Linked DNA regions of Homo sapiens: region 1 is linked to region 2. Evidence: fine-mapped expression QTL. A gene starts in region 2. The other region holds a variant in brackets. All regions are shown on one strand. Distances are between the middles of the regions.

Region 1 (2,920 bases), 42 kb after region 2:
AACCCAGAGGCGGAAGTTGCAGTGAGCTGAGATTGTGCCACTGCACTCCAGCATGGGTGACAAAGCAAGACTCTGCCTCAAAAAAAAAAAAAAAAAAAAAAACTTGATGAAAACTATGATAAAGGAATTACAAAGTTCTATGGATAGGAATACAAAGGGAGAACGCCTAAATTAGATGGAAGAGATCAAGAGAGGCTTCCAGGAAAAGTGTTGGATATGCTAGGATCTGAAGTACACTCTTGGTTCTAGGTCTTCGGGCATGCTTTTCCCTCTGCCATCTACTTCTCCTCTTACCTTGAGGTACCCTCTTCCCAGTTTACCTGCCTATTTCCTATTAGTCAGTCAAGATCACCTTATATATCACTTACTGTAGAAGCCTACTTTGAGTCCCTTGGTCTCTTCTGTACTTAATTTTTTGATATGTGTGTGTGTGTGCCTTGCTTTTAAAAGTGAATGAATGAGGGAAGTTAAGTAAGTTTTCTTGCAGTACAATTAGAAACAGTGTTGTTAGGACTGGTGGACTGATGAGGCAGGATGAAGACAGTACATGATGGTGGCTTGAGAGTTGCTAAATTATTTGAGAGGCCTCCGTTTTGGGTTGTGTTGAGGATTATAAGGATAAAAGGTATCTATGGAATTAAGTGGTTTTATGATTCTCAATTTACAGCAAAATTGTTTCAGCACTAGAACTGATTGAAGGTTATAGACAATGTCAGGAGATACTTCTCAAGATTCTGCTTTACAATGTGTTATCCTGAAAGTGGTGGCAATGAGTCAGCCTTGTTGTAATGTTAAAAAAGCAATTTTATCAGACAGATTTGAACAATGGACTGAAAATCACAGGACCAGGATTGTAACACCAGATCTATCTTTTACTTAGACAAGTTACTTCCCCTCTTTGTGCCTCACCCTTTCTGTTTATGAAATGGGAATGATCCATCACTTCCTATTTCAACAGGAATATTTCAAGATAAAAGGTATGTATTGGCCATAAAATATTTATTGAGCCTACTATGTGCCGGGCACTGTTTTAAATGCTGGGGATACAGCAGTGAACAAGACAGACATGGCCATGCCCATAAGGAGCTTGCTTCCCTATGGGAAGAGACAGACAATAAACAAGTAAGACAATATCAGCTTTGATCAGAGCTGAGAATTCAATTAAAAAGAGCATAGTAAAGAGTGATGAGGCAGGGAAGAGATGCTTTAGGTAGAATTTTCAGAGAAAGTATCTCTGAGAAGATTAAGATTTGATTAATAGGGAGGCAGGCACAAAGGGAACACTAAATATCAAGGTCAAGAAATAAGAATGACATTGTGGCATTAAGGGCCTGAAATA[C/T]GACCAGTGCTGCTGAAACACTACGTAAGAAGGAATGCAGAGGGGGATAAAATCAGAAAGGTCAGCAAGGAATAAATGGGCCAAATCAAAGATTTTGGATTTTATTCTAAGCAAGGTAGGAAGCCACTAGAGGATTTTGAGCTAGGGATTTATATGATTTTAAAAAATATTTTAGAAAGATCAGAATGACTGCTGTATAGAATACCCTGTACAGGGGCAAGAATGAAAGCAGACAGACCAGTTAGAAAGAGAATGCAGACTTCTTGGTAAAAGATGACATTGACTAAGGATGTAGCATTGAAGAAGGTGGAATATGCTAGATGCTAGAAGTATTTTGGCAGTAATACCGGTAGAAGTTGCTAAGGGATTGGATAATAGAGCATGAGATAAATATCCAAAATCTTGAGCTAAAGTTCCATGTAGCTATATAATTTTAATTAAATCACCTTATAAAGTAGAATTTTTAAATTTGAGATTTTTGTTTCTATGATAATCTAAAAGAAAGAAACTAAACAAATTCTGGTATACTGGCATATAGTTTGTGTTCCTATTAAGTTTGTATTTAGAATCTCATTGGTATCAATGCAATTTGTTAAACTGGTAGTGTTTAATTTCTAATGATTAATTTTGGATCAGTTTTCCATAATCATGGGAAAAAGTAACATACATATATTACTTTTATAGTTATATATGTTATATGTATATATGTTATAGTTTTATATATGTTATAGATTACTATATATAACAAGTATATATATTGCTTTTATAATATATATTACTATTCAATGTATTACTTTTAGATATATTACTTTTATAGTAATGTATATTACTATAAAATATATATATATTACTATATTTCTATACAAGTTCTCTTATAATCCAAAAAACATTTCTTCCTCAGGTCTAATGACCTCAGTATATAAAAAAAGGAGAAGAGGAGAGAAAGAGGAAAATGGTTTAAATTGACATTAGCTCTAGGATCCTTTCCAGGATGAAAAGTTGAATCCTTTAATACTCAAACGAAGGCCTTTCCTTTTTTTTTTTTTTTTTTTTTTTTTTTTTTTATAGCCTACAATGGTTGGAAGAAAAAATACTTGGAAACAAAGAAAGTCACAGCATCAATGGAGGAGGTTTTAACAAAACTTCGAGAAGATTTGGAACTCTACTATAAAAAACTGCTCATGCAACTTGAAGCCAGGGAGATCAAGATGAGACCAAAGAATCTGGCAAACATCACAGACTCCAAGGTATTACTAAATGTATCCCCCTTCCGTTAGAGAAGTTCTGTTCAAAACACATGCTTTATAAGTGCTAGTAGTATCACAAGATGCATTAGGCTAACTTTGACTTAAACTTGCTTAAAACAATAAAAAAACTCATGACCTTATGTAATAGGAGGAGCATTGCTGAGGAGATACAGTCAGCAGCTTAATGTTGCCTTTAAGGGGTCTGATATTTTCTTCCTATTATTTTCAGTGTTAATTTCATTGTAAGACTGCTTCTAATAGTAGCAATAGAGTGGTCAAGGGCAAGTAGGGCTTTATATCCCCAAACAGGGAGAAACCTCTCTCTGAATCATGG
Region 2 (2,920 bases):
ATTCCCTTCCCTTCTGAGTTGACCACAACTGAGTAAGCTAGGTCCCTGACATTTCTAGTTAACAAAACTAAATGGGAGACTCTCTCTCAGGAGGATCCTGCACCAAGACGAATGAGAATTTCCCTTCCCTTCTGAGGTGACCACAACTGAGTAAGCTAGGTCTCTGACACTTCTAGTTAAGAAAGCTTAGAGACCCTCTCAGTTCACAAAACATTTCGGCAAGTAATAAAGACTAGCCTGATGAGTATAAAATCAAATCATCTTAGGAACTGGCTGCTTTTAACAGGGCACATGATTTACATTCTTGTTTCTTTTTTTAACTGCAGAAGTGTTTCACATGTAGCCTGACCTATTGTACCAGAAAGAAGCCAATCCATTTAGGACTGTAAAAATCAGGAAATACTTAGAACAGCACTTGAATGTCAAGTTATTCTATCAACACAGACAAAAGGCTTTTTCTCCCAAAGTACCCCAAGACAAGGCCAATACTAACCAGACGCCAAAATAAGACCAATAATTACCCACAATAATCATTTTCTCCGGCATGCGGACCAGTCGATATCCCCAAGGTCAAATATGAGCAAACTGTGCCATAGGTATGAAATGCACGCTTTGTTCGAGGTTGTACGGGGCACTGACCGGAACTTTACACTCCAGGATCGTTTCGAAAAATGCTTATTCAATCCACAGTTTAAGTTATGCAATAATTCGCTTAAAAGTATGTGTTCAACGGACAAGAGAAGTTGAAGGTAAGAATTTAATACTAAAGGAAGTAGGTTTGGGAAAGATCAAATGGGAGAAAAGTCTGCTCTGAATCAAAAGTCGGAAAATACCCTGTCCGATGAGAAACAGGAGGCTGGCAAAGTGGGAAAGGAAGGGTGCGGACAGCGCGCGGAGGCGCAGCTGTTGGTGAGACCAGCCGAGAAGGCTGCCAAGGGAGGTAGAGACGGAGGAGGACCGGAATGTCGGCCACGGTTCAACCCAGGGGCCAGCCCGCCTCGGAAAGTCCTGGGGCGGAAGGGCGAACTAATCGTCCCCCTAAAACACAGCGTAGACCCACGCGGCGCCTGCTCTAAAGCTGGCCGCTCCCCGATCGCCGCCGCTGAGCGCGCGTCCTCTCCAGGGGAAGCGAGGGCCGGCGCGTGTCCCGCCCGCCCCCGCCAGCTGGGCCGCCGGATCCCACCCGCCGCCGCCGCCTTCCTCCCGCCTCGGCCGCCCGCCCCCGCTCACTTTTACGCGGTTGAGTCCGGCCTCCAGCCGGAGCTGTTGAACCACTTTCTTCATAGCGGCGACGCTGGAGGAGCCAGACATGGTGCACGCGACGGCCGGGCCGATTCGTGGGTCGGTGGGTCGTGGGCCGTGGGTCGGCGGGGCCAGACAACTCAGCGGCGCGCGGCGGGGGCGGGGCTCCGAACTTTGTCTCTAAGTTTCCGGTTCTGTGCTCAGCGGCTCCACCCTCGGTGCGCATGCGCGCCTTGCCAGCCCTCTGTTCCAGCTCCACACCCGGCCCCGAGCGCGAGCCTGGAGGAGGGGGAGGAGAAGGGGCGGAGCAGTCGGTGGGCGCGGCGGCTGCTGGAGGCTAGCGCGACCCGACTCTTAAGTTTTCTTTTCCTCTCCAGAGGGGCCGATTAGGGAGAGGTAAGGAGAGAGCTTACCGTTAGCCGCGAAGAACTAAGAGGGGGTCTGAAGAGGACCAGGGAGGGAAGGCAGAGCTTGTGGGAGTTTCTAAAAGGCCCGGCGGCGGGTGACCAGGAGGTCTCAGTTTTCCTCCCAGTTTGTGGGAAGGGTTGAGGGAAGTGAGGGGAGATACTGGGTGAGGCGTAGGAGCTACTGTGCACCCGGCGTGAGTCACCCGCACACCCCCGCCCCGTACAGGCGTGTCTCTCTGTGACCCGAGTTTGGCCAACAGGCATTTTCAGTTCCACCCCCAACCCCCAGCCCCGCTGACCCGAGGCGGAGAGCAGGCGCGGAGGTCGCTGTCGCGTACCCAGCGGAGCCGGGCGGGCGGGGAGCAGGGGCGCTGATTCGCTGGAGAAGGGATCTTCTCGAGGTTTGACTTTACTGGCTTCTTAGCTCTTGAATCGGTTTTTCTGAAGGAGATTGTGAAGAAGCCAAGGTGCTGGCTGAAGATTACACCTGTCTGCTCGGTTACCCATTTACTCTGGAGAATTAATGCTTATTGTACTTTTTAAAATAAAACTTATTTTTGTGTTTCCGGAAAGTTTGCTCTTTAGTATTTCCGTTGTAATTTATTACCTCCTGCTTGAAATTGAGTACCAAAGGAGTTTTTAGGAGAGAGGGTAGGGTCTAACCAAACAAAATAGGCTCAGCCAGTAGGTCTTTCTTTCATCCACGGAAATATGTGTGTTATGTCACAGCACTAAGGGCAGATGTTTCCTATTTCTTTTCGGGTAGTCAATCTCCGAATGCGCTGATGTTTTCCATTAATGTTAATAATTTTATCATTAATGGATTTCAAATTTTTTATTAGGGAAGCATGTGTAATTGCACTGGTCAACAAAATCTAATTTATTTACTCAACAGTTTATATCAGTTCGCAAAAATGTACATCGTAAGTTTAGCATTTTACTTAATTCATACGGATGTAATGATTGGGGTTAAAACCAGGGTTTGAATTCTGGCTCTGCTACTTACGGTATTCTTGGGCAAGCCACTTAAGTTACTGAGGCTTTATTTCCTTATTTCAAAGTAAATTATACAGCTTCGTAGAGTTGTTTTTCGGAATGAAATGACATTATATGTAAAAAGAATGTGAAAGCTATCTCAATAAATATTGTCTTTTCCCAAAAGGTATTGTAATTATTTCACCTTTGGTGCTTTGTTGACTGTATAATGCTAAAACGTCATTCATACTTTACAGATTTGTAAGATTAAACACAAGTATCTATTCAAAGAATGA

The links.
Region 1: its variant is fine-mapped to the expression of SPATA1 in lung (TOPMed, PIP 0.97).

The regions. Positions count from the first base shown.
Region 1 is chr1:84,546,379-84,549,298 of GRCh38, forward strand. SPATA1 (spermatogenesis associated 1) reads left to right here. Exons shown (of 14, transcript NM_001397487.1): 11 at 2,408-2,586. Among named protein-coding and RNA genes, the nearest start is that of CTBS, 27 kb to the right of the region's middle. The variant C/T (reference allele first, on the strand shown) is at 1,340.
Region 2 is chr1:84,504,781-84,507,700 of GRCh38, forward strand. It overlaps SPATA1 (spermatogenesis associated 1), which reads left to right and starts at 1,606. Exons shown (of 14, transcript NM_001397487.1): 1 at 1,606-1,638. It overlaps GNG5 (G protein subunit gamma 5), which reads right to left and starts at 1,801. Exons shown (of 4, transcript NM_005274.3): 1 at 1,656-1,801; 2 at 1,231-1,521. The coding sequence starts at 1,311. RefSeq lists silencers at 1,067-1,196, 1,447-1,526.